4 linked regions of the Homo sapiens genome follow. The protein of the gene in region 1 purifies or fractionates together with the protein of each later gene. This does not show direct contact. Each region holds a gene or a part of one and is shown in the gene's direction. Other genes may lie near its edges.

Region 1 (7,027 bases):
TCCTAACTGACTGCTATGATGAAAGATAATTATAACTCCAGGGAAAACAAATAATTCAACTGGTTTGTTTTTAGCCCATACCTTCCCTAAAAACATCCTATTTTAGTTTCCTTAATAATTATCATCCTTACAATGGCTGTGGAACAAAGACAATATTTTAAGACAACATTTGTCTAGACACACCTTTGAAGGATGCCTGAAGATAGTGGTGGTAGGGAGGGATGCAGGGAGGAGGGTATAGTGTATGGGGGAAGAGTAATGAGGGTAGAGCCCACTTGTAATTTGGTAATTGTTAATATCAGTTCTGGGGAATTCTGAACTCTCAAAACAAAACAAACAAAAAATCCAGCTGACCTAACCAACCTACTTACCTACAGACAAACAAAAACCTTCAAAGACCCTAGAATTGATCATAATTATTTGAAAGTGAAATTATGGATATTTTAACAATTCTGATTGATATGGCTTTGGTTTGAAAGTCTTCCAAAATGAATTAATCTCTTTTCCTGATTAATCAAAAGAATGTACTGAATATATAATCAAGATGTCCTTCATGCTTTAGAATTCTCTTTCTGAGCTTTTTCATTGTATAGATCTGTTGGGGCAGACTGGTTATGTATAAAAAAACCGTAGGAAGAAGGTTAGCACTGGCTTCTAAATACATGCTGGAAATTGTCTTTTGAATGCTTCCCTGCCCTATCTTTATTTTCTCATTTATCTCTTTCTATAAAATGAAGTTATTAGAAAAATTCTTTATGAGAGCACTGGTTTTTATTGTATTATAGTAAGACTTCATGCCAATCATTTCTTGGCCAGTATTCCATTTCCCATAGTGTTTGAAATATTCTGATTTTAGTTTGTGGTCTATATTTTCTTCCATGAATAGCACATCTGAACTAGACGTACTAGAAGTTTTTTTAGATATCTTTGAATTTTATACATGCTTAGATAGTATATGTATATTTTTCTTTAATATATGTAAAGAAAATGTGATAATTAAAATGTGTGAAATTTAATGTGTTCACAAAACCTCTAAAAGATCAAGAAACAGTACATTAGAAAATTTCTGTTGTTTCTAGGCCTAATGCCAATGGTTCAAATGTGCAGTTACAGCTGAAATTCAAGTTTCCTCCAGCAGAAGGAGTTAGCATGAGGACTAAAATCAAGGCTAAATTACATCAGATGTTGAAAAACAACATGGCATCCTGGAATGCAGTTCCTGCTTCCATTAAACTCATGGGTATTTGACTTATTTCCATTATTTTCTATTACATAGGTTTTTTCTGGATTATTTTTTTAAAAAGTACTAAAAAGTGAACTAAGAGTTTTAGTAATTCGGGAAAAAAATATGCGTACCTAACTCTGGCACCCCTAGCAATGACTTGGTAGTGGAAAGGGCAGTGCCATGGAATCATTGTCTGAAGAATGATAGGAATGAGGGTTACACTGCAAGCATGGATGTAAGTTTGGAAGGGTTTGGCTATTATGCATGGGAAAGGGGGTGAAGGGTTCTAATTGAATTATCTTCTTGTTTTTTTTTTTGAGATGGAGTCTTGCTCTGTTGCCCAGGCTGGAGTGCAGTGGCGTGATCTCGGCTCACTGAAACCTCTGCCTCCCAGGTTCAAGCAGTTCTCCTGCCTCAGCCTGGGACTACAAGCATCCGCCACCACACCTGGCTAATTTTTTTGTATTTTTAGTAGAGACAGGGTTTTACCATGTTAGTCACACTGGTCTTGAACTCCCGACCTTGTGATCTGCCCACCTCGGCCTCCCAAAGTGCTGGGATTACAGGCATGAGCCACCGAGCCCAGGCAAAGTATCTTTCTTTTCTACTCCTTGCTTTTGTCAGGATCTCATGACAGAAAGCAGATTTAGGGCTTTCTTGGTCTTTCAGTAAGGAGACTGCAGGAGTTAAGAACAATGTTAGGGATGGGAGTTCTTATTGATTTTTGTGAAAAAACTGGAGTAATACCACTTTTAAAGAAAAAAATTGTCTGGAAAATTCCCTAGAAAACAAGGGAATCATGAAATTTTGAGAACTTAAATTTAAATCTTTTTCCTATTGGTAAAAGACTTTAGAGGGAAGGAGAAGAGGAGGAAACTAAAGAAACACTAGAAAATGCTGAGTATACTCTATGGGACACAGAAAGAGAGTAAACAATCTATCCCTCTTTCCCAAAAGCTTCTCACAGAAAAATGATAAGATTTTGCCTCCTTACAGAAAGTGAAGTTTGTAAAGATTGTGAAGGTTTTGCAAAGGTCTTGAAACTGTCACTTGGATTGTTAAAAGTCCAGCTAGGTGATAAGCATATGATTTCAGAGTCCAGTTTCATGGTTCTTCCAGCCAGACAATTAATCCTAGGGTCTTCGAGGGCTTGAAAGGCCAGCAACATCTGCCAGTTACCGCTCTTTTGCCACACAATAAAGACCCCGTTACCAGTGAACCACTAATAAGAAGGGAACCTGAGGTAGAACTTTTCAAGGGAGCAATAAAATTTTTCTGTGAGTAGCTTTTGGGAAAGAGGGATACGTTGTTTACTCTCTTTCTGTGTCCCATAGAGTATAGTCAGCATTTTCTAGTGTTTCTTTAGTTTCCTCCTCTTCTCCTTCTCTCTAAAGTCTTTTACCAATAGGAAAAAGATTTAAATTTAAGTTCTCAAAATTTCATGATTCATTCTTAGTAAGGAGATTTCCCTAAAGAGCAGGATGGGCTCAGTGAAGTATAATTTTAATTGGGACATTTTTCCTTAAAATATATATAATTCTGAGCATTTCAGAGTAAAGAGAATTATCATGGGAAAGAAATCTCTATCATGATCTCTTAAAAGTATTTGTAAGGGGGAGGGGGGAGGGACAGCATTAGAAGATATACCTAATGTTAAATGACGAGTTAATGGGTGCAGCACACCAACATGGCACGTGTATACATATGTCACAAACCTGCACGTTGTGCACATGTACCCTGAAACTTAAAGTATAATAAAAAAACAATTTGTAAGGGTGCCAGCTTCTTACAGCACTGAATATTTTACTTCAATAATCATAAAACTGATTTTTGTTTTTTATTCCCTTTTCTCTTTTTCTAGGCTACCTAGTAGAGATATGGAGAGATGGTTATAATGTAACAAATAAGAGTCAGAGGGGCTGAAAATACCTGAACTACTCCAAATAGTTAAATGTTGGACAATATTGGGTTAGGAAAGTTAGCATTTATGTTCTTAGGTTGAAGTCAATTGCTTGGTGATATTTGCTCAATTTTATATTTTGTTTTGTTTTTCACTTTCAGAAATCAGCAAGGCTGCTTCTGAAATGCTTACCAACAACTGTAAGTTAAGGACCTTTTAATTATAAATTTGATGGACTCACAGGTATTTTCTCATTATTTTTCTATTAAAAATACTTGAAATATGTCATGTGGAAATCCCATAACACGCTTTCCGAATTACTAGATATACCAGATATTGACTTAGAATTTCTCTTTGAAAAACACTGGTCTATTAATTTTAACATTTATTAAAAAATATATAAAAAGTTAAATGAAAATTGATTCCAAATAATAAAACTGTGAGTGAAAAATATCATATTTGAATATGTTAAAATGAGAAAGATTGAAGGAAATGACAATTTAGGATAAGAAGAAAATATAAAACCAGGCTATATAAAATATATTTATTAAAGATAAAAACAGTTCTGCATCTTAAAAATTATTATTATTTTTTGCTTTAGAGGTGGGATGTTGCTATGTTGTGTGGGCTGGAGTGCAATTCACAGGTGCAATTACAGTGGACTATAGCCTGGAACTCTTGGGCTCAAGCAGTCCTCCTGCCTCAGCCTCCCAAGTAGCTGGGCCTATAGGAGCATATCGCTGTCCTGTTACATCTTTTAAATAAATTCTCTTTAGAGTATCATGTTTTCCACAAGATACATTTATGCATTCATTCACTCCATGGATATTTATGGAGTATCTTTTGTTCACATGGTGTCTTACAGACAGCAGTGCATATACTATGCAAGATGTAGACACCAATGAGGCAAAGCTCCTCCTTCAAGAATCTGCTTAGAGAGACAAGAGTTATAACACATAGACACAACAAAAAATAGTGGTTGAAAGATGCTTGAGACTGGAAAAGAGGATAAGTAAGAACCACTCAAACCAAGATAGAATACAGAAACATCACAGGAGTATCTTGTAGGAAAGAAACGTCATCAATTAGGAGAAGTTGAATAATCACTGAAAGGTTTCAAGTAATTTTTAATGATATATTTTTTTATAATGCGTAATCAAAGATACCTGCTCTCGTGTAAATAAATCCTTTCTCTAGGTTGTGGGAGACAAGTAGCCAACAGTATCATAACTGGCAACAAAATTGTGAATGGAAAAAGCTCCCTGGAGGGGGCATGGCCATGGCAGGCCAGCATGCAATGGAAAGGCCGTCACTACTGTGGAGCCTCTCTGATCAGCAGCAGGTGGCTATTATCTGCAGCTCACTGCTTTGCTAAGTAAGTTTGAAAATTTGACTAAATGAAGGATGCTAGGTGCAAAACTATTTTGGATAGTTTGTAGGGGTTAACTTAATGTGTCAAGGTTCACCAAGGCCATATGAAATTTACAATCACATAGAACATTTACAATCACCTGCGTAATTAAAGAGCAGGAAAGGAAATGCATTTAAATTAGAGAAAGGAGAGAAAAGCAAATAGAAGTATTAATTAACATTTTCCAAATAGGTACCTTGGCCTGACATTAAGTGCTTTACTTAACATCATTTCATTTAATCACAACATTCAATTCTGTATGGAAGGTATAGTTAAAACCATTTGAAGATGAGGAAACTAAGTCTCACTCAGGAAAGGTGACAAAACTTGGCTAAGATCACTCAGCTCTTTTTTTTTTTTTTTGAGATGGAGTCTCAATCTGTTGCCCAGGTTGGAGTGCAATGGTGCGATCTCAGCTCACTGCAAACTCTGCCTCCTGGGTTTAAGCGATTCTCCTGTCTCAGCCTCCTGAGTAGCTGGGATTACAGGCACGCACCACTATGTCCAGCTAATTCTTGTATTTTTAGTAGAGACGGGGTTTTACCATGTTAGTCAGGCTGGTCTCGAACTCCTGACCTTAAGTGATCCGCCTGCCTCAGCCTCCCAAAGTGCTGGGATTACAGGTGCGAGCCACCATGCCCAGCCTAGTTCTTAAATAATAGAAACTGAATGTGAATTCAAGTGTGTCTGACTCCAGTTACTAGGTGCTTCCTTGTCTTGCCATCCAGAAGTTTATAATCTAGTTGAGAAAATTTAAATGTCATATATTAAAAGTACGAGGCTGTATAGTATTGTAAACATGACACGTATTACAAAGATAGTAAGTACGATGGAAATTTGAAGAAAGACAGCATATCCATCTGACGTAAAATTTAATCTGGACCCAAAAATTGAGTATATCCAAAGGAAGATAAATTGTTCTACCAAAAAGCCATATGCACTTGTATGTACACCACAGCTCACAATAGCAAAAACATGAAATCAACCTAGATGCCCAGCAACGGTGAACTGGATAAAGAAAATATGGGTCATATACACCATGGAATACTATCCAGTCATAAAAAAGAATAAAATCATGGCCTTTGCAGGAACATGGATGCAGTTGCAGGCTATTATCCAAACTAAATGAATTAATGCTGGAACAGAAAACTAAATACCACATCTTCTTGCTTATAAGTGGGAGCTAAACACTGAGTACATATGGATACAAGGAGGGGAACAATAGACATTAGGGCCTACTTGAGGGTGGTAGAAGGGTGAGGGTAAAAAAAGTAGCTATTGAAACCAAGGGTATGTGGCAATAAGACTAATCCTGGACCCCATCCACTTACGGAATTGAGGACGCTCATGTGATTCCTGACCAAATTAAATGTTCAGAAACTGGATGGAACTGAATAAGCAGGGGAAAACATCAGTGACTCTACTTGAAAAGATCTTCAGAAAGCTGACAAATCTGAGTCCTTAGCATTATTTTTAAGTGACTGCAACATTTACAACAGCTCCATGTCAAAGATAGTTTTCAAAATAGAATTTCAGTGGTTTATAGTTTTGTTTGGGAACCTCATGCCTTAAAATTATGAGATAATCACCACTAAGAACAGTGTTGTGACCCAGCAACTGAGTGTATTCTAATTACATTGTGTCCTCTAGGAAAAATAATTCAAAAGATTGGACTGTCAACTTTGGAATTGTAGTAAATAAACCATATATGACACGGAAAGTCCAAAACATTATTTTTCATGAAAATTATAGCAGTCCTGGGCTTCATGATGATATTGCCCTTGTGCAGCTTGCTGAAGAAGTTTCTTTTACAGAGTACATTCGTAAGATTTGTCTTCCTGAAGCCAAAATGAAGCTCTCAGAAAATGACAATGTTGTAGTTACAGGTTGGGGAACACTTTATATGAATGGTAAGTTTTTTTGTAAAATCATAATAGCTGCATGGGAATAACTATTTAATCAATCAATCAATCAATCAATCAATCATCCCCTCATGCAATTAATCAATCAGTAAATATACTGAAAAGAAAACCAAGTGGTGGGACAAAAAGCATGATGTCAAATTGTCTTCACTTCCTAAAATATCTCTGGGAATGGGAATTGGAAAAATTGAAATTATGTGTTAGGCAGCCAACTATTACAAACACCTGAAAGAGACTAATCTAACCTGGGACTGGCCTGACTCTTGGTGACCAAGAGAGTCTGCTTTATGCTATAGGTAGATATTCTTTGTCCCAGCAAAGTCTAAGATCTGCATAATATGCAGCACTTATTGCTTTTAGGTTCATTTCCAGTGATACTTCAAGAAGACTTTTTGAAGATTATTGACAACAAAATTTGCAATGCCTCATATGCATACTCTGGCTTTGTGACTGATACAATGTTATGTGCTGGATTTATGTCAGGAGAAGCTGATGCATGTCAGGTATGTCTAGTTACATTATCCAGTTGTTTTCTCCCAGTTAATCAAATGGAAGTTTTTATCCACATA
Region 2 (7,515 bases), on another chromosome or scaffold:
AGGAGTGGAAAGTTAGGGTTTTCCTTTCCAAATGGCTCTAGGAAGTCAGTGTGAAACGGCCTTAGGTTCCCTGCTCGCAGACCCTGTTCTCCTGCCTAACTACTAGAGTACAGTGTGCACTTCCTAAAAACGGAAGCACTTTTGCTAATAATTTTAACTTGACACAAAAGTAGGGTGATCAGATAAAATACCCTTATGTCCCATGTAATAGTTGGAATGTACTTATACTAAAAAATTATTCATTGATCATCTGAAATTAAAATTTACCTGGGTATACTGTACTTTTATTTGCTATATCCGACAATCTTATACAGAAGTCGTCATGGGAAACTCAGAAAAGGCTGTCCAAATTATTCTGGCAGAGAGGAGTGGAAGAAACAAATGCCATTTAGGTTGGGTGCAGTGGCTCACACCTGTAATCCCAGCACTTTGGGAAGGCAAGGTGGATCACGGGGTCAGGAGATGGAGACCACCCTGGCCAATATGGTGAAACCCCATCTCTACTAAAAATACAAAAATTAGCTGGGCGGGGTGGTGCGTGCCTGTAACCCCAGCTACTGGAGAGGCTGAGGCAGGAGAATTGCTTGAACCAGGGAGTCAGAGGTTGCAGTGAGCCAAGATGGCGCCACTGCACTCCAGCTTGGTGACAGAGTGAGATTCTGTTTCAAAAACAAAAGAAAAAGAAAAAAAGACACAAATGCTGTTAAAAAAAATTTAAAAGACAAAAACAAAAAACTGTGGGGCCCGGCGTGGTGGCTCACGCGTGTAATCTCGGCACTGGGGGAGACCAAGGCAGGCGGATCACCTGAGTTCAGGAGTTCGAGAACAGCCTAGCCTGGCCAACATGGTGAAACCCCATCTCTACTAAACATACAAAAATTAGCTGGGCGTGGTGGCTGGCACCTGTAATCCCAGTTACTTGGGAGGCTGAGGCACAAGAATCGCTTGAACCTGGAAGGCGGAGGTTGCAGTGAGCTGAGATCCTGCCACTGCACTCCAGCCTAGGCAACAGCGAGACTCTGTTGCATTTAAAAAAAAATTGTGGTAAAATATACATAATAGAAAACTTACCGTCTAACCATTTTTAAGTGTACACTTCTGTGACATTAGCATATTTGCATTGTTGTGCAGTCATCACCATTCATCCCAACTTTTTCACCAACCCATACTGAAACCGTATGCCATTAAACAGTAAATCCCCATCCCTCCTTCTGCAGACTCTCTCTACAACCACTGCTCTACTTTCTGTCTCTATGAATATGACAGCACCATAGTATTGGCGGTAAATCAGAGTTGGCAAATGCAATCTGAAGCAGAGGAGAGGAGAGAGTCATATCCCTCAAGTTTTACAGTCCCATTAAAAGTATTAGTACTTTGAGAAAAGGACCGTCACGATCATGGGGAGAATGAAGGAAAAACTCCATTTCTTTCCAGTTTGCAACTGGAATTGTCACTTTCGTCTTTCGGCACGACAGCGCCCAGGCCACAAAAGCCCACAGGGCAGGGCCTCCATTTTGTGGCCTGCGTGGAGGGCGGGGCGGTCTCTCTCCGCCACGCCCCAGCACCGGGTAGACACCGCAGCCACGTAACCAAGGAACCCCGAATGAGGCGTTGGCCAGGTGAGGCCGGATCCGGAAGTAGGGGGACCACTTCGCCCCGCGTACGAGCCCCGCCCCCGGCCCCTCCCACCAGACCCAGGCCGACCTAGATGACGTGTCCGAGTAGGAGTTGGCGAGGTGCGGCCGGGCGGCCGGCCCTGCGCATGCGTGATACTTGCACCGGTCGAGATGGTAGCATGAGTCTGGAGGTCATTTTCTTTGAGAAAGGCTCCGCTTCTCCGGGTTTTTGCTGATGCCGATCCCGGGGGATTGAGGAAACATTGAGCTCTGGAGTGGAAAAGGTTGCAGACTTTTAGACTCCCAAGTCGTTGTAGTCTCAATCTCTAGTGGCTGCGTTACTGCAGGAAGTCACGGAAGCCTCTCCCCTTTCTTAGGCGCATCCTTGGCTGTAAAAGGAGGTTAAAAGCCCCTGGAAAACCTCAGGTTTATTTCAGCTCTGAAAGTCCGGTTCCAAATTTAGATCCAGCACTCTTGTGGCCTGGCCAGTGATGGTCGTGGAGTGCTTTCCCCGCGCCTGCGGTCTCTAGGCTCTGTGGATGTAGAGGTGTGGGATGTAGGAGCAGGCCCTTACCCGTGGAATTCACATATAAATGGGGGAATGAGACAGCAAACAAACAAACGTGATCCTTCCTGATAGTGGTAAATGTGGGATGCCGAGGTTTAAGCAGACGAGTGGTATTAAGGGATTTCAAGGTTTTATAAAATTGATTTTGCCAAGAGTGGAAGCTGAGAGGCTACTGCAGTAAGAAGTCCAGGGGAACTAAGAATTTGGCTTGGACCAGAGTGGTAGCTGTGGGCATGGAAAGTACTGAAAGGATTTAGCCCATAGTTTAGCAGCCCAACCAACGGGACCTGCTGAAGGACTGGAGGTAGGTAGTGAGGAAATGAGAAATTTAGGTTCTTCTCCAGGGTTGGGGCCTGAAAAGAGATGGGCAGCGATGCCGTTTCCTGGAAAACTGGGAGAGGAAATGTTTGGGATGAGGGCAGTGAGATATAATGAAGGTCAAGTTTTTTTTTTGTTTTTTTTTTTTTTTTTTTGAGACGGAGTCGTGCTCAGTCGCCCAGGCTGGAGTGCAGTGGCGCGATCTCGGCTTACCGCAAGCTCCGCCTCCCGGGTTCACGCCATTCTCCTGCCTCAGCCTCCCAAGTAGCTGGGACTACAGGAGCCCGCCACCACGCTCGGCTAATTTTTTTGTATTTTTAGTAGAGACGGGGTTTCACCGTGTTAGCCAGGATGGTCTCGATCTTCTGACCTCGTGATCCGCCCATCTCGGCCTCCCAAAGTGCTGGGATTACAGGCGTGAGCCACCGCGCCGGCCGAAGGTCAAGTTTCAGTGGTGCTAGGAAAAGAAGATAGTGAGCAAAAATGTTAATTTTTGTTTCCTCCTCTTAATATTTGGAGAAAACGTCTGCTTCCTTTTGTTATATTGGAAATCTCCATGACTTCCAAATACAGAATATTTTACAATTTTTCCCTATCCCAAAGTTCAGCGAATATGTTGATTTATTTGAGGGAGAGGACATGAAAGGGAAGCCACCTAGGCACAATTTTCTGCTCAGGCCCTACCAGATTAGTTTTTGTTATCAAAAAAAAAAAAAAAAGTGCCATTCCTTGGGCCAAGCTATGTGCTCAGCACTTTCCCTCCATTTTTGATTTAATCTTCACAACAACCTTAAGATGAACGTTCTTTTCTACTTCCCAGTTCTCTTGATTAACTTGGCTACCCCACTATATGGATCAATTTGCAGGGTCCTAGGTCCCTTTGAAAATCTGATGAAAGTTATAAACCTTACCTGGGAAAAAAGTACAAACACCCGCAAGAACTTGAAATAGGAGTTCACTGGCCCTCAACTTTCTGAGCTTACTATTTCACAAACCTGCCTATTCTTGAATTCTGAGCTGGAGGTCATGATTCTCTCTTATGTACTTTAAGATGATGCACTCTTCCGAAGTTTTTGATTGAACTCTAGTGGCTAACTGAATTGACTTTTTCAGATCACTAAAAAGCTTCTCCTTGAAAAATACTCAGAAGATGCAACACACACACACACACACGTGTGTGCACTTACACACGCGGACACCGTCTCACATCATCAGTGGGAAAAGTGATAGAATCTTGCTAAAGGCTGATCATACCATATTAATCCGATTCGCCAGAACTACTTTCTTCACTGAGCTCTCAGGTATGCTCGGGTCTTCCTTTAAAGAAAATAAATGTCAACGCTACACTCTATCCTACTCCCATTTTCCTCCTCACCCCATTTCCACTCTCCCTTAAAGAGATGTGTGCACACAATCACTGCCCAATGCAAGAATGCACCACTGCATCCAATGCTTGGAAATTGTCCGTGAAGATGCCTTTGAGTAGCTGTCTATTTGAGGATTTGTGGCTAATTCCTCCCCATTTGTTTCCTTAGCCTGCTCCCAACCAGGTGTCTCCAGAACTTTTTCTCTCCGCCACCAACTCCGCCTCCAGACAGACCGCAGGTGCTTTCTGTCATAGGGACTGGCGTGCCGCGGACAGTGTGACAAAGAAACTGTATGATGGATATGAGAACTTCGTAAGACCCAGCAGCAAACGGGGAGCGGCTGGCGAGCGCTCCACAGCCCCCAAGCGTGGGAGCTCTAGATCGGAATTTGTAATTTGGAATTGGAACGTGAGCGCCGGAACAGCTCTCCCAGCAACCACCTCTCCCAGCAACCACCTCAGCTGGCGCGCGGAAAACCCGGAAAGTGGATTTCGCCCCCGCTCCCTCCCGGAAACTCCTCCTGGTGCCTGCGACCGTTCTCACTGAGCATGTGCAGACGGCGGTGCGCATGCTCTGTTGCGGTCCGCTTCGGTTTCTGTTGCGGGACCCGGGGTGTCTCCTAGCGCAACCGGAACTAGCCTTCTGGGGGCCGGCTTCCTTTATCTCTGGCGGCCTTGTAGTCGTCTCCGAGACTCCCCACCCCTCCTTCCCTCTTGACCCCCTAGGTTTGATTGCCCTTTCCCCGAAACAACTATCATGAGCGCGAGGCTGCCGGTGTTGTCTCCACCTCGGTGGCCGCGGCTGTTGCTGCTGTCGCTGCTCCTGCTGGGGGCGGTTCCTGGCCCGCGCCGGAGCGGCGCTTTCTACCTGCCCGGCCTGGCGCCCGTCAACTTCTGCGACGAAGAAAAAAAGAGCGACGAGTGCAAGGTGGGTGAGGCCTGACGAGCCCTCTGATGCACTGTTGGAAGGGGAAGTCGTCCCTATCCGGGGGAGCTGATCCTCGGGTGGGAGCGAGGGAAGGGGGCGTAGCAGCGGGTGGGGTTGAGTTTCCCCAGAAGCTTTTGGGGTCTGCTGGGCTGTGGGTGGGGGGCTCTGAAACAGCCCTTGCAAGGGTAGTTTCTGGAGGACGCAGTGGGCCTCAGACTCGCCTCCCGTCTTGCGGGCCAAGTGGCACGAGCAGCTGTATTCAGTTTTCCTGGAACAGGGACCGTGTGGAGCGCCCTTGGAGTTGGGCTTCACGCCTCAGAGCTTTGGAGTTGGATGTATGCAGGTCCACGCGTGAGTGTTCGCTCACAGCCCTGTAACATGTACGCTGAGGAAGCGGGTGACCGACTCCCTACATGTGAGCAACACTCAGCCTAGTTAACAGTTTCCATTAGCTTTTAACTTCATTGCTTCCTGTTTAATTGCATTTTCCTGGAACCTTCTAGTTGGTTAGGAGAGCTTGTTCTTTCTAGGACTTTGATATCTCGCTTCACAATTAGAAGTTGGTTCCTTATTTGTGGAGTATAACACCCAGAGCCACACAAAGTGCATTAATAAAGAGTTGCTGTAATGGTTGAGGCACTTGATTTCTGAGTTTTAAGTGTAAAAGATTTTAATACACAAAAAAAGATACGAGGTCTCACTATTTTCTCTGAGATGGTTTTAAACACTTAAAAGGGGCAAATGGTGGGAGAAACTGGTGTTTTCCTAGGGCAAGTCTTGAAAACTTTGATCTCTTACAACATTCACACTCAAGGTTTTCAGTTTAATTGCTAGTAAAAGAGGCGTAAATAAAGTAACCTGCTTTTAGGTTATATGGTGTAGGGCTTTACAGTATACATACACAATTATTTCGTTAAGTTTATTTAAAACTTAACATTTGGGGGATGAGGATCTCTTTGAAACCTTTAATGATTTCAACAATTCAAATAATCGTTCAACAAACGTTTACAATCTATAAATAGGCTTATTTATTAAGTTTGATTTTTTTAAGCTGGTGTTTATTACAGTTAGCTTTACTATAGCTGTGAATTTTGAGGTTATTTTAGGGCATTAGATAAGCTTTAAATTTTTCATAACATTTTGCAGTTTCTTTTTAGGTTGTCAGCTATCTTGAATGACATGTTTATACATCTGTGCAAAACCTTGTATCTGAAAAAATATCTAAGGATATTTAAGGTTTACTCAAGTCTGCAGTTAGTGTTTCAGTACTTAAGTTCATACTCTGCAGTGCAAGAAGCTTTCACTCCTTTTTGAGGATTCTGACTGAAAGACTGTTGTTGTGCTTCCAAGTGGAAGATCTAGACTTGCAAGTACACTGGTTTTTCCATTAAATATTTTAGTAACCAACCTTTAAGGCCTAGTGTTTGGTCTTACTTTAACAGCAGTTGTATATTCTATTCCTAGTGCCTCAAAGATGAAAAATATATTTCCTGCCCTCTGGGAACCTCAAAGTAAGGGACATAAGCTTATGAACAGATTATTGAAATCTGATCTGTTACACAGGATGATGTCCAAAGTGTGCTAAAACAAAATGAGGAAACATCAGTGGACTAGAGTCTTTAGGGAAAGCTCTATAGAAGAAGTGACAGGGCCAGGTGTGGTGGCTCACGCCTGTAATCCCAACACATTGGGAGGCCGAGGCGGGTGGATCACCTGAAGTCAGGAGTTTAAGACCAGCCTGGCCAATATGGTGAAACCGCGTCTCTACTAAAAATACAAAAATTAGCTGGGCGTGGTGGCGGGCATCTGTAATCCCAGCTACTCGGGAGGCTGAGGCAGGAAGAATCGCTTGAACTCTGGAGGTGGAGGTTGCAGTGAGCTGAGATCGCGCCATTGCACTCCAGCCTGGGCAACAGAGCGAGACTTTGTCTCAAAAAAAAAAAAAAAAAAAAAAAGAAGAAGAAGTGACATTTGAGATGGACTTAGAAAATGAATAAGTGAAACTTATAGGTGGTCTTCCAGTTAGATGATTGTTTTCTCAACAGGTCCTTTGGTAAGTGGCTAGGTTGTATTCTAGTTATTTTTTAGTTAATCTTGGGAGTCATTTTGGATGTTTAATTTTCATAGGTATAGGGATAAAACAGGCAGAGCAGATCATTTTTCCGAAATGTTTGGATTTTTATCTTTATTGCCAGCTACACTCACATCTGGTTAATGGAAACAACTCTTAGAAGAGCAGGAGGGTGTACTTTCAGCTTTTTTCCTGCGATATGACTAACTGGTGTAGAGAATTTGAAATACACTTTAATATTTATTTTCTTTGCCTTTCAAAGAAGATGCTATAAATAACAGTAAACAGTTGAAATTTGTATTACTTCAATCAGGATGTTAATAATTTATTCTCATCTATTTCGTATTTGTTAAGGAGGACAGTCTTGTACACATTATTCAGAAAAGTGGAAGGAACTTCTTTTAAAAATTAGAAATGAGAGTTGTGAAATGGAAATAATTTTTTCCAAAAGATGCTGTTAAGTTAGTGAATCTGAAGTTGGAGAAATTGGGCAGGTCATTGATACTGTTACCAACAGTTTTTCCATCTGTAAAATAGGGATAATCATATTTGATTATGACATATTCCCCTTGAAAGGTATTTTGCATTTCTTAGAGGAAAAGTGCAATATTTGTCATTGTTGTGATAGTGTAGAGATGAAACAAATAT
Region 3 (7,027 bases), about 72 Mb from region 1:
ACCTTTTAATTTATAAGGAGGGAAGAGGGTGACATTAGCACTAAATGTTCTACCCTATACCATATAAACAAATTCTTGCTGTACTAAAATTATATAACTTAAACAACCATACAGATCAATAAAGAAATAGATAACACCACAAGCCAACTAAACATAATAAACATATGGACAACACTGTACCCAACAATAGCAGAACACACATTTTTCTTAACTGCACATAGAACATTCTCCAGGATAGACCATATTAGACCACAAAACAAGTCTTAATGAATTTTAAAAGATTGAAATCATACAAAGTAAGTTTTCTGAACACAAAGGAAAGGAACTAGAAATCAATAGTAGAAGGAAAACAAGAAAAATTCACAAATATGTGGAAATTAAACAGCACACTCTTGAACAATGAGCCAAATAAGTCTCAAGAAAAGTTAGAAAAACATCTTGAGACAAATGAAAAGGAGAACAAAAGATACCAAAACTTATGGGATACAGTGAAAGCAGTGTTAAAAGGGAAATTTATAGCTTTAAGCACTTACATGAAAAACAAAAGATCTCAAGTTAACAACCTAACTTACACCTTGAGGAACTAGAAAAAGAGCAAATGAAACCCAAAAGTTAGAAGAAAGAGGGAAATAATAAAGATTAGAGCAGAGAGAAACAAAATAGAAAATAGAAAAACAAGAGAGAAAACAAGTGAAATCAAGAGTTAATTCTTCGAAAAGGTCAACAAAAAAATTAACAAACCTTTAGTTAGATTAAGAAAAATGAGAGAAGACTCAAATAACTAAAATTGGTAATGAAAGGACATTACATCTGATTCTACAGAAATAAGAGGGATTATAAGAGAATACGCTGAAGGATTGTATGGCAACAAATTGGATAACCTAGATTAAATGGATACATTCTTAGAAACACACACTCTATCAAGATTAATCATGAAGAAGTAGAAAATCTGAACAGACCTGTAACTGGTAAGGAGATTGAATCAGTAAACAAAAACTTCCCAGCAGATAAAAGCCCAGGACTAGGTGGCTTCACTGGTGAGTTCTACCAAACATTGAAAGAATTAACACCAGTCCTCCTCAAATTCTTCCGAAATATTGAAGAGGAGTAAACACTTCCAGATTCATTCTATGAAGCCAGCATAACCCTGTTATCAAAGCCAAAGACACTACAAGAAAACTACAGAGCAATATTCCAGATGATTATTGATGCAGAAATTCTTAACAAAATACTTGACAACAAAATTCAGCTGCATATTAAAAGAGTTATATACTATGACCATGTTGGATTTATTCCTAAAATTCAAGGATGATTCAACATAAGAAAATCAGTGTACCATGCCACATTTACAATGTAGGGAGGGGAGAACACATGATCATCTTTATTCATGCAGAAAAAGCATTTGACATGATTCAACACTCTTTCATAATAAAAAACACTCAGTACACTAGGAATAGAAGGAAACCACCTCAACATAGTAAAGGTCATATATGAAAAGCCCACAGTTAACATCAGACTAAATGGTGAAAGACTGAAAGCTTTTCCTTTAAGATCTAGAATAAGACAAGGATGCCTGCTTTTTCCACTTCTCCCGAGCCAGAGAAATTAGGGAAGAAAAAGAAAGAAAAAAGACATTCAAATTGAAAAGGAAGAAGTAAAATTATCTCAGCAGATAACATGATCTTATATGTATGTACAAAACCCTAAAGATTTCACGAACACAATACAAAAGTCTGTTAGAAATAATAAATGAAGGCCAGGCATGGTGGCTCATGCCTGTAGTCCCAGCAATTTTGGAGGCCAAGGTAGCCAGATCAGTTGAGTCTAGGAGTTTAAGACCAGCCTGCGCAACATGGCAAAAACCATCTCTACAGAAAAATACAGAACATTAGCTGGGCATGGTGATGCTTGCCTGTAGTCCCAGCTACTCGAGAGGCTGAAGTGGAGGATCACCTGAGTCCAGGAGTTCAAGGCTGCAATGGGCCATGATGGTGCCACTGCACTCCAGCCTGGGTAACAGAGTGAGATCCCATCTCAAAAAACAAACAAATGAATTCACTAAAGTTGCAGGGTAAAAAAACTAGCACACAAAAATTAGTTGCACTTCTGTATACTAACAATGAACAGGAAATTAAGAAAACAATTCCATTTATAACAACATAAAAAAGAATAAAATACTTAGGAATAAATCAAGGAAGTAAAATACTTGTACATGAAAAATTATGAAATGCTGCTGAAAGAAATTAAGAAACAAATATTAATCAATGGAAAGACATTGTGTTCATTGGGATTGGAAGACTTAATAAGATGGAAACACAACCCAAAGTAATCTACAGATTCAGTGCAATCCCTGTCATAATCCTAATAGCACTTTTTGCAAGAATAGTAAAATTCATATAGAATCTCAAGGGACCCCAAATAGCCAGAACAATCTTGGGAAAGAATAAGTTTGGAAATCTCACATCTCTGTTTCAAAACTTATTACAAAGCTATAGTAATCAAATCAGTGTGAGACTGGCATAAAGACAGACATATATATCAATGGGATACAATAAAGAGCCTAGTAATAAATTCCCACATATATGTTCAAATTTTTTTTATAAAAGTGCCAAGACCATTTTGTGAGAAAGGACAGTCTTCTCATGAGATGATATTGGGGAAACTGGCTATCCACATGCAAAAGAATGAGGTTGTAACCTTACCTTAAATCATAGACAAAAATTAACTCGAAATGGATTGAAGACTTAAACATAAGAAAACTATAAAACTGTTAAAAGAAAACATGGAAAGCTTCATGACATTGAATTTGCCAGTAATTTTTATATGACACCAAAAGCACAGACAACAAAAGAAAAAATATATAAATTGGAAAACTCAAAATTAAAAAGTTCTGTGCATCAAAGAACACAACAAAATGAAAAACCTATGCAATGGGAGAAAATATTTGCCAATCATATATTTGATAAGGGGTCAGTATCCAGAATTTGTAGGAACTCCTACAACTCAAAACAAAAACAAAACCTGATTTTTTAAATAGGCAAAGGACTTGAATAGACATGTTTCCCTTGAAGATGTATAAATAGCCAACAAGCACATGAAAAGATACTCAGTATCACTAATCATCAGGGAAATGCAAATCAAACCACAATATGATACTACGCCATATTAGGACCTATTACAATGACTACTATTTAAAAAAACATAATTTTGAACAAATGTTGGCAAGGATGTGTAGAAATTGGAACCCTTGTGCCTTGTTGGTGGGAAGGTAAAATGGTAAAGCCACTGTGGAAAACAGTATGAGGATTCAAAAAAAAATAGAATTATCATATGACCAAGCAATTCAACTTATGGGTATATACTCAAAAGAATTGAAAACAAGGTCTCGAAGAGTTATTTGTATACCCATATTCATTGTAGGATTATTCACAACAGCCAACAGGTGGAAGCAACCCAAGTGTCCACTGACAGATGAATGTATAAACAAAATGTGGTGTATACACACAATGGAATACTGTCCAGCTTTAAAAAGGAAGGAAATTTGATACATGCTACAACATGGATGAAGCTTCAGGGCATTATGCTAAGTAAAATAAGCCAGTTACAGAAAGACCAATACTGTATGATTCCACTTATATGCAGTACCTAGAGTAGTCAAAATCATAGAGATAGATATTAGAAAGATGGTTTCCAGGGGCTGGAGGGAAGGGTAGTGGGGAGTTGTTAAAAGTGTATAGCGTTTTAGTTTTAGAGCATGAAGAAAGTTTTGGAAATTAGTTGTACAACAATGAGAATGTTTTACCACGTGATTTAAAACAATTTTAAATGCATAAATTAACTACTTCATTTTCTTGTAGTATTACCCCAGCATCTGACCTCTCAGAGTTTCAGTACAGACTTGTCAATAGCATACCTCTCTCTAAGAAATGAGATGTCACAAACCTCATAGTTTTGTTTGGAACTTAATAACATGTTGGCACCATTGTGAGACAGATTTCAAGACTGTGAACTTCAGTATCTAATTCTCAATTGTCAGCTGGTGCAGCACTGAAGAATGATAGGATACTGCAGCATTACGCAGAAAGTATTAAGTCTGTATTTCTGATTTTTTTTTTTAAAAAAAAGAACAAATAAAAACAATAGAACTGCATTGTCTACAGAATGCCTTCTAACCAATTGCAGTTCTTTAAAACTCTCTGTTTTTGTTTTGTTGATTAGGAATAGTACCTACGCTATTCATGTCCTGGGCTGTAAAGATTAAATTAGCTAGTTCTTTGATGTAAATATAAGATCATAGAATTTTAAAGAAGAAACAAACTTTCAAGATAAAGTGTTTTCTGAACTGTTTTCTGAAGCATTGGCAACTATTTCTAAGGAAAAGTCAGGAAAAACTATAATATAGAATACAAATAAAACTGGGGTGCTCTGGTTGAGTTAAGGGTAGAGTTCCAGATAGAGCACTACCTGCTTGGCTTCCTCTTAACTCTTTCTTGGCAGCCCAGTACACCAGAGTTCAAACAAAGCACTTAGAATGTTTTTTTTTCAACAAATTAATTGTTTGGAACCTAAAGTGTACATTCATTTGAAAGAGAGGATATGGGTCTAAAGTTATATTAATGTTCATTATTAGTAGTATTATTTTATGTGTTTTTATTTTGCTCAAAAATGATTAATAGCCAGTCAAGCAAAGTGCCTTTTACTATGTAACATGGAAGGCCCTTAGGCTTTTAGAACAATGAAGCTTTTAGAGTTCACAATTAATAAGCAATTTGCAGATATACAAATTTCTGTGCCAATAACTAGGAAATTAAGGAAATAAGCCTATTTCATTGTGTCAAATTGATCCCTTTACATTTACTTCCTATCCCAGTTATACCTCTTTTGTGATTTAGAGAGATCAAATCCTAGTTAATGACAGCACCCATCATTTTTGTCTTTGTCCATAAATATATAAGTAATTATGTAATTGTGGAATTATAGGAATTATATATGCAAAAGAACTTTCTCCATAGCAGTCTACCTGATTACAATAAGCCCTATATTTGTTTGATCTTTTGAATGTGCTTTGATTTTAGTAAAACTCTACCACATTAAATTTGTGATAAAAAAATTTTTGTATCTTTTCTCAGCATTTATATATAAATGTATTTTGGTTTTATAATTATAAAATTTCCATTTTTATGTTTATATACACTTAAGCAACATTATAATAAAAACAATTTCAGTGAACATTTAGGAATCATGATACTTTTAAAGAGGTCTACATATTATTTGTGTTTGATAACTACTATCATCTTTATCTTTAGATTTTTTTTTTATTATACTTTAAGTTTTAGGGTACATGTGCACATTGTGCAGGTTAGTTACATATGTATACATGTGCCATACTGGTGCACTGCACCCACTAACTCGTTATCTAGCATTAGGTATAACTCCCAATGCTATCCCTCCCCCGTTCCCCCACCCCACAACAGTCCCCAGAGTGTGATATTCCCCTTCCTGTGTCCATGTGATCTCATTGTTCAATTCCCACCTATGAGTGAGAATATGCGGTGTTTGGTTTTTTGTTCTTGCAATAGTTTACTGAGAATGATGTTTTCCAATTTCATCCATGTCCCTACAAAGGACATGAACTCATCATTTTTTATGGCTGCATAGTATTCCATGGTGTATATGTGCCATATTTTCTTAATCCATTCTATCATTGTTGGACATTTGGGTTGGTTCCAAGTCTTTGCTATTGTGAATAATGCCGCAATAAACATACGTGTGCATGAGTCTTTATAGCAGCATGATTTAGAGTCCTTTGGGTATATACCCAGTAATGGGATGGCTGGGTCAAATGGTATTTCCAGTTCTAGATCCCTGAGGAATCGCCACACTGACTTCCACAATGGTTGAACTAGTTTACAGTCCCACCAACAGTGTAAAAGTGTTCCTATTTCTCCACATCCTCTCCAGCACCTGTTGTTTCCTGACTTTTTAATGATTGCCATTCTAACTGGTGTAAGATGGTATCTCATTGTGGTTTTGATTTGCATTTCTCTGATGGCCAGTGATGATGAGCATTTTTTCATGTGTTTTTTGGCTGCATAAATATCTTCTTTTGAGAAGTGTCTGTTCATGTCCTTCGCCCACTTTTTGATGGGGTTGTTTGTTTTTTTCTTGTAAATTTGTTTGAGTTCATTGTAGATTCTGGATATTAGCCCTTTGTCAGATGAGTAGGTTGTGAAAATTTTCTCCCATTTTGTAGGTTGCTTGTTCACTCTGATGGTAGTTTCTTTTGCTGTGCAGAAGCTCTTTAGTTTAATTAGATCCCATTTGTCAATTTTGGCTTTTGTTGCCATTGCTTTTGGTGTTTTAGACATGAAGTCCTTGCCCATGCCTATGTCCTGAATGGTAATGCCTAGGTTTTCTTCTAGGGTTTTTATGGTTTTAGGTCTAACGTTTAAGCCTTTAATCCATCTTGAATTAATTTTTGTGTAAGGTGTAAGGAAGGGATCCAGTTTCAGCTTTCTACATATGGCTAGCCAGTTTTCCCAGCACCATTTATTAAATAGGGAATCCTTTCCCCATTGCTTGTTTTTCTCAGGTTTGTCAAAGATCAGATAGTTGTAGATATGCGGCGTTATTTCTGAGGGCTCTGTTTTGTTCCATTGATCCATATCTCTGTTTTGGTACCAGTACCATGCTGTTTTGGTTACTGTAGCCTTGTAGTATAGTTTGAAGTCAGGTAGTGTGATGCCTCCAGCTTTATTCTTTTGGCTTAGGATTGACTTGGCGATGCGGGCTCTTTTTTGGTTCCATATGAACTTTAAAGTAGTTTTTTCCAATTCTGTGAAGAAAGGCATTGGTAGCTTGATGGGGATGGCATTGAATCTGTAAATTACCTTGGGCAGTATGGCCATTTTCACGATATTGATTCTTCCTACCCATGAGCATGGAATGTTCTTCCATTTGTTTGTGTCCTCTTTTATTTCATTGAGGAGTGGTTTGTAGTTCTCCTTGAAGAGGTCCTTCACATCCC
Region 4 (7,027 bases), about 97 Mb from region 1:
GCAAGTAGCTCAGTGAGTTGTGTGGGTGAGTTAAGCAACCTTTTTTATTCTTTTTTTTTGAGACGGAGTTTTGCTGTTGGTGCCCAGGCTAGAGTGCAGTCACAGCTTACTGAAACCTCCACCTCCTCATTTCAAGCGATTCACCTGAACTCCTGACCTTAGGTGATCTGCCCGCATCAGCCTCCCCAAGGTGCTGGGATTACAGGCGTGAGCCACCATGCCCAGCTGAGTTAAGCAATCTTTATGTAGAGCTCTCCTTTGAGAAAGAAGTTGGTTGGTTCAAAGAAAGATAAATGGGACAGTGGCTTGGAAGAGGTAATGGAGGCTAGGAAGGTGTTTATCAACAAAGGAAGATGTAGGCTGGGCGCAGTGGCTCACACCTATAATCCCCACACTTTGGGAGGCTGAGATGGGAGGATTACTTGAGCCTAGGAGTTTAAGACCAGTCTGGGCAACATAGGGTGACCCCTGTCTCCACAAAAAATTAAAAAAATTAGCCAGGCGTGGTGGCATGTGCCTGTGGTCCCAGCTACGAGGGGCTGAGGTGGGAGGATTGCTTGAGCCTGGGAGGTCGAGGCTGCAATGAGCCATAATTGTGCCACTGCACTCCAGCTTGGGTGACAGAGTGAGACCCTGTCTCAAAAAAAAAGAAAAAAAAAAAGAAAAGACGTGAATGTGTTTTTAGACCTGAAGGAATGGATTCCATGAAGGGAGAAGGATGAAAGATGGGAAAGGATAAGTGATGGACAAGTTCTTGAGGTAAGATAAGAACACAGGAAGACTAGTCAGTCTTAGAGGAAAGAATGAATGAGCAAAGAAATTTTAAGGCCTGTAATGACACAGGATGGAACACTATAGTCACTGTGGTGTAAGTCATTTGAGATGAGTAGGACAGAAGGAGGACGGCCTGAAGTGAATTCAGATGCCTGGAGGAGTTGGCTAGGTTCTCAATATTCCTTCTGTAGAATGGGATAAAAGGTCAGTTTGAGAAGTGTTGGGGAAGGGGACTTTTAAAGCACTATTTAGAATGCTTCTGAGGCTTTAAAATACTCATTTTTAAAATGGTCCAAAAAATTCATAAATTAGAAGCAGCAGTGGTGAACATTTTTAGGAAAGTGACCCTTGAGAAGTTTATTTTTTGGTTAGTGACCTATTGAGCTTATTTATTAGGTAAGTAGAACATGCTCATTTAAAAAGTTTAAATTGTGCAAAAGACATATGTCAGATTTTTTTTTCTGTCTTCCATAACACTATTTCCTACCCCGCCGCGCTCTGTCTTCCGTAACACTCTCCCCTACCCCGTCGCCACTCTGTCTTCCATAACACTGTCCCCTACTCCACCACACTGTCTCCTACCCCGCCGAGCTGTCTTCCATAACACTCTCCCCTACCCCGCCACGCTGTCTTCATTAACACTATCTCCTGCCCTGCCACACAACTCTGTTTTCCTAGAAGTCACCAGTGTGAATTTTTCCCTTTATCCATATGTACATTTTTTGTTTCTGTGTGTCTGTGTATATACATATGCATAAAAGTGCATAGATAAAATACATATCCTTTTCAAAAAATCTTAAGTGGGGCTCTTGCTATGCATACTGTTCTGTAACTTGTTACTTGGATTAACACTGTATCTTAGACATCTTTCTATGTAGAGCGTATAGATCTTCCCTGTTCTTTTAAATGGCTGTATAATTGTCTATGGAAGGACTTAATTTATTTAACCCATACCTTGTTGATGGCTTATTTGTGTTTTGCTTTTATTTTTTCCTCTTTGTTTTTGCTGCTACAAGCAATGCTTCCTTCCATCTTAGCGGATCTGTCTTTGTACCCTTGAATGAGAAAGTTGCTGGATCAAAGGATGTATTCATTTTGAATTAGGTGTTGCTAATTTTTCCTCCAATGATACACTGATGTATCCCCCCTGCCCACAGTGTGTGGTCATGCCTGTTCTCTCACCCTCTTACCAGTACTGGACATTAATAAGCTTTTAAAGATTTGCTACTCAGGCTAAAAGTGTCTCTTTGTTTTAGGGTGCATTTCCTCATTTAATGAAGTGAAGATTCTTCCTTGTTTAGTGACCATTTGCCTTTATTTTTCTGTGAACTGCTTGTGAATGGCATTTGTCGTTCTTCTGTTGTCTTTTTAGTCTTTTTTCTAAAGCACACTTTGTAGCCCTTTGTTGTAAAATGTTGGAAATATTTTTCCCAGTTTGTCATTTAATCTTTGACTTTGTCTTTCTATTCCCCAGTAGGAGGTACTTAATTTTTATATACTCATATTTGGCAGGCTTTTTCTTTATAGGTTCTTTTGGCTTTAAGTGATACTTTTAAACCCAGCTATTGCTCATTTAAATTAGAACCTTTTCCATGAGAACCACACTGACGATTTCTTTAAATATAGCTTGAAAAAATTTTTCCCCTATTGTTCTTTTAGCTATTGTTCTTGAAAATAATGTGTTTTTTAAAGGAATATCTACAAATAGAAATGGTGATGATATCCAGCAAATGTTTTAAAATGGTGTAAAACCATTTGTACTCCTTTAGTAATTTTTTGGTAAAAAATTTATACTCCTTTAGTAATTATCATTTTTAAAATGATCAGAGGATGCATTTTTTAACTGTTTTATTTTTTGAAAGCTCATTGTTTAACTTATTATATATGTATTCATTTCTACAGAATTATAAGGCTGTCTGCAGAGATTTGAAAAATGGCAACAAATGAAAGTGTCAGCATCTTTAGTTCAGCATCCTTGGCTGTGGAATATGTAGATTCACTTTTACCTGAGAATCCTCTGCAAGAACCATTTAAAAATGCTTGGAACTATATGTTGAATAATTATACAAAGTTCCAGATTGCAACATGGGGATCCCTTATAGTTCATGAAGCCCTTTATTTCTTATTCTGTTTACCTGGATTTTTATTTCAATTTATACCTTATATGAAAAAATACAAAATTCAAAAGGTGAGTATAAGGGACTAGAAATAGAATATTATCATTAATGTTGCTGAATATTTTAAAAGTACATAGGGCTTTGTTTTGTGAGGCTAAAGCAGTGATATCCAATAGAAATATGAAGCCACGTATGTAATTTTAAATTTTCTAGTAGAATACATAGAAAAGGTAAAAAGAAATAAGGAAATTAATTTCATAATGTGTATCATTTAGCTCAATAAATGTAAACTATCGCTGGGTGCAGGGTCCATGCCTGTAATTCCAGCACTTTGGGAGGCCAAGGCAGGAGGATTGCTTGAGGCCAGGAGTTCAAGACCATCCTGGGAAACATAGCAAGACCCTGTCTCTACAAAAAAGATACAAAAATACCCAGGCATGGTGATGTAAGTCCTAGCTACTTATGAGGCTGAAGCAGAAAGATTGCAGCACTATACTCTAGCATAGGCGACAGAGTGAGACCTTGTCTCAAAAAAAATAAGAAATAAATGTAAATTATTATTTCAATCAGTAATCAAATTCTAAAAAATACTTAATGAGATATTTAATAAGTCTTTGCAATTCCGTGTGTATTTTACATTAATTTTAGTCTATCTCAATTTAGACTAGCCATGTTTAAAGTGTTTGGAAGCCACATGTTACTAGTTGCTCCTGAATTGAGCAACACAGTCCTAGGTCATTATTGATAACATTTCAAGAATACTTTGTTAAATTGGGCTTTAAGTAGATGTGATGGTTATCTAACTTAAGTTTATGAATTTTAATGTTTAAGCTAGCTGGAAAGGAAAGGTGTGGTGATTTGCGCATATTTTGCAGTTCACCCCAACTCTATGTTCCAGTAAATCTAAGGGACTGTTAATACACTACGACCTTGATCAGGGCTATTCAAGTTTTTTTTCCCTAAATATATGGTAGGTAGTTCTGCAGCATTCGTATCATCCCAAATAAGGAGGTGATGCTCCTCGTTTCTGGATATTTGCTTCATTGCACTAAATGTTGAGAGGTCGCTATGTACATGACAAGGTGAAATCTCATATGTAGCCTGTGAGCTTGACGTGAGAATTTGGAGTAGCTTATTAGAAAGATGAATTATTTGTTAGAATTTGTAAGCTGATGATAGTTTCTAGTGTTTGCTGTTTACTTTTCATAAAAAGTCATTCCAAACTAAAACTCAGGGGCACACAGTCTTGGTAGAAAGTAGACCATTGAGAGTATTCATCTATGGAAAGTAATTTACATTCACTTAGTACAATTGGCCCTCCATATCCATGGGTTGTTGTATCCATGGATCCAACCAACTGCAGATCAGAAATATTCAGGGGAAAAAAATTGTGTCTACACTGAACATGTACAGTCTTTTTTTTCCTTGTCATTATTCAAAATGACAACTATTTATAGAGCATTTGCATTTTATTAAGTATTATAAGTGCTGTAGAGATGATTTAAAGTATACGAGAGGATTCGTGTAGGTTATGTCAAATACTATGTCATTTTATATCAGGCACTTGAGCATCTTCAGATCTTGGTATTTGCAGAAAGTCCCAGAACCAATCCTCAAAAGATACCAAAGGACAACTGTATATATTTTGGATGGCAGTCTGTACACATTCTCTGTTATCATTCTGTTAGTTTCACAGCCTCTCCCAGAGTCTCACTTTAAGCAGGTATTAATATTAGTCCTCTCTGGGGATAATGCAGGGGTCAGATGACTGTGGACTCCAGGCCAAAGGAGAAAAGAGCAAAGGGTAAAGGCGAAGGAAATAAAAAATAGGAGGGCCAAAGGAGAGTACTCTGTGACCCTCAATTAAGGTCACAGAAGCTCCAAAGTGCTTTTTAGGAAAGCAGCTGCTTTGAAAGGCAGAATTAAGTTTGGACGTCTAAGTTCTAATGCACCTTTAGGGTGATTGTGGCTGCCGTGTTTCACCCAGTGATTTATTTATAGGGCTTATTCATTGTAATTCATTGTATGGCTGGCCAGGCAAAAGCATCCTTTTTCTCCTTCACTGCAGTTTGTAACTGACTCACTGGTTAGAAGTAGTAACCTTTGCAGAGAGACAAAGGACTTTCTCAGGCAAGGGTATATGAGCAGCTTTAAAATATAATGTGGCAAAGGAAAGAATAAGCTGTAGTCTAGTTGGTCAGAGCTAGTTGTTTATGAACAGATTGTAAGGCTGGATAATTTGACTTCAAGTCTGTACTCAGCAAGTCTTTATGTTTCATAACCATTAAAGTCCATGCTTTGAGCATTTTTGATAAAAAATGTGATTTTAAACCAGGACTAGTTTTCACAAGTTAAAGGAGTTTTAAAAGAAACCAAAATATTGGTACAAATTAATTACAGGTTTATGCATTTCGAAGGCAGATACCCTGATTAACATTGAGGGTATCAATTGTTTAAGATAAAATATTTGAGAATTATATTTAACATATGCAATAAATGTTTTTATTCTTAAAATTGTCGAAAAGAATAGAAGAAGTTGGTGGTGGTGATGAAATAGTACTAAAGACTTTCTGCTTTCAAACAGAACAGACAACTGGAGAGCTAATGCACATCCTTGCTAGTTAGGCGAAAATTTCACAGGAATGAAAAAGTAAAGCAGACTTTGCAGGATCTATTTCTTTAAAAAAAAAAAAAACATACATCTTAGTAATTCTCCAAAAATTTTCCTCAAAGATAAATGTACTAAAAATATTATTTCTGAAGTTTGTGGCCCTTGTAAAGGTATTCCTTTATATTAAGTACAGTTATGCATAAAGAAAGTAAAATATGGTAAACTTTCATATTGCACTAGGTATGAATTTGTATTGCTAACTGTCTTTGTAACTAATTTATGTATACTGTAAATGGTATAGCATGTGATTTTATTATAGTTGATTAACTTTGTAATTTCTGTAACTGCATCGATATCCCAGTCTACCTGGAAAATTAAGTCTATTAACCATAGTTGCTGTAGGAGACAGTACTATTGCCAACTGAAGCCTGAATCCTTCATTTATTTTGTCCCCAATTACAGAGTGGAGGTTTAGAGGAGTGGGGTTAGATAATGCTCAGATTAGAAATACAAAGGCAGCTGTCAGATCCTCCCATTTTATTGTTGAAGAAACTGAGTTGTAAACATCACAAGAGCTAGTTAACTGGTGAGTAGCAGCCCTGGTATTAGAGCACAAGTCTCTGGATTGATTCTTAGTTCAGTGCTTTTCCTATTTTTGTCAGGAAGATAACCCTTAAAGAATTTCAAGAACAGAGCTGGATCTGGAGACCTAGATTTTAGTTAGTCCAACTTCTGCTAATAACTGCGTGTGTGACCCTGCCCAAGCTGGTTGACCTCTTTGGGCTTCTGCTGATGCGCAGTAGTTCCCGTACTTTGGATATCGTGGTTCAATTAAAAGAGTTTTGTTGGCGGATACCTGAATTTTTCAGCAGTGACATTTAAAACAAAGCAATAACTGATATTTATTGTCACCATCGTTTTGTTAAGCCCAAAGCACTTTTTTAAGTGCAGTCCTATAAATTGAATACATTTAGTTAGTGTTTGTTTTGTTTTGCTTTGTTTTTTATAATGACTTGCTAAGCAAATGGGTATCCTGATGAGGTCTTAACGAACATCCCATGTTGATCTAACTTTTCTCATTTTGACTTGAATCTGTGAACTCCATAATCAGGACATATCTGTGTACTTCTCAACTCAGAGAGTTTATAATTCTGTCATTGGATTTGAACAAAAGTGCATTTATTTGTTGGAATGAATACCACTGAGTGCCTGGAAGCATCGACTTACTGTGTAAAAGGCTTCCAATGCTTCGTATACAACTTCTTCAATTGTGGACACCCAACAGTAATCTTAGCATATTATATTTCTTCTTCTCTGAAACTTCTGGTAAAAGAAGTGAAGTGAATGATCTGTGGCAGCAAAGACTGGAGAATTATTCATTCCATAGTGTTTCTTAGTTTGTTTGAGATCATCATGGCTAGGCGCATCTGTTAACAGTTTCTTCACCTGAAGTAGTGATAGTAGTTGTCAAGAATTTAGAAGGCAAAGATTCCTGAGTCTTAGTTATATAAAGTTAACATAACTG

The links.
Region 2: the proteins of TMPRSS11B (region 1) and TM9SF2 purify together in Homo sapiens (affinity purification with mass spectrometry; 3 studies listed by BioGRID and IntAct, with this or other methods). This does not show direct contact.
Region 3: the proteins of TMPRSS11B (region 1) and CLGN purify together in Homo sapiens (affinity purification with mass spectrometry; 2 studies listed by BioGRID and IntAct, with this or other methods). This does not show direct contact.
Region 4: the proteins of TMPRSS11B (region 1) and MSMO1 purify together in Homo sapiens (affinity purification with mass spectrometry; 2 studies listed by BioGRID and IntAct, with this or other methods). This does not show direct contact.

What each region holds. Positions count from the first base shown.
Region 1 is NC_000004.12:68,228,676-68,235,702, reverse strand, and holds part of TMPRSS11B (transmembrane protease serine 11B), read left to right. Parts: intron 1-1,079; coding exon 1,080-1,240; intron 1,241-3,286; coding exon 3,287-3,325; intron 3,326-4,322; coding exon 4,323-4,500; intron 4,501-6,186; coding exon 6,187-6,446; intron 6,447-6,818; coding exon 6,819-6,961; intron 6,962-7,027. UniProt on the Homo sapiens protein: Serine protease.
Region 2 is NC_000013.11:99,496,982-99,504,496, forward strand, and holds the start of TM9SF2 (transmembrane 9 superfamily member 2 precursor), read left to right. Parts: upstream 1-4,490; 5' UTR 4,491-4,625; coding exon 4,626-4,796; intron 4,797-7,515. UniProt on the Homo sapiens protein: In the intracellular compartments, may function as a channel or small molecule transporter.
Region 3 is NC_000004.12:140,417,644-140,424,670, reverse strand, and holds part of CLGN (calmegin precursor), read left to right. Parts: intron 1-7,027. UniProt on the Homo sapiens protein: Functions during spermatogenesis as a chaperone for a range of client proteins that are important for sperm adhesion onto the egg zona pellucida and for subsequent penetration of the zona pellucida.
Region 4 is NC_000004.12:165,330,664-165,337,690, forward strand, and holds part of MSMO1 (methylsterol monooxygenase 1), read left to right. Parts: intron 1-2,676; 5' UTR 2,677-2,707; coding exon 2,708-2,962; intron 2,963-7,027. UniProt on the Homo sapiens protein: Catalyzes the three-step monooxygenation required for the demethylation of 4,4-dimethyl and 4alpha-methylsterols, which can be subsequently metabolized to cholesterol.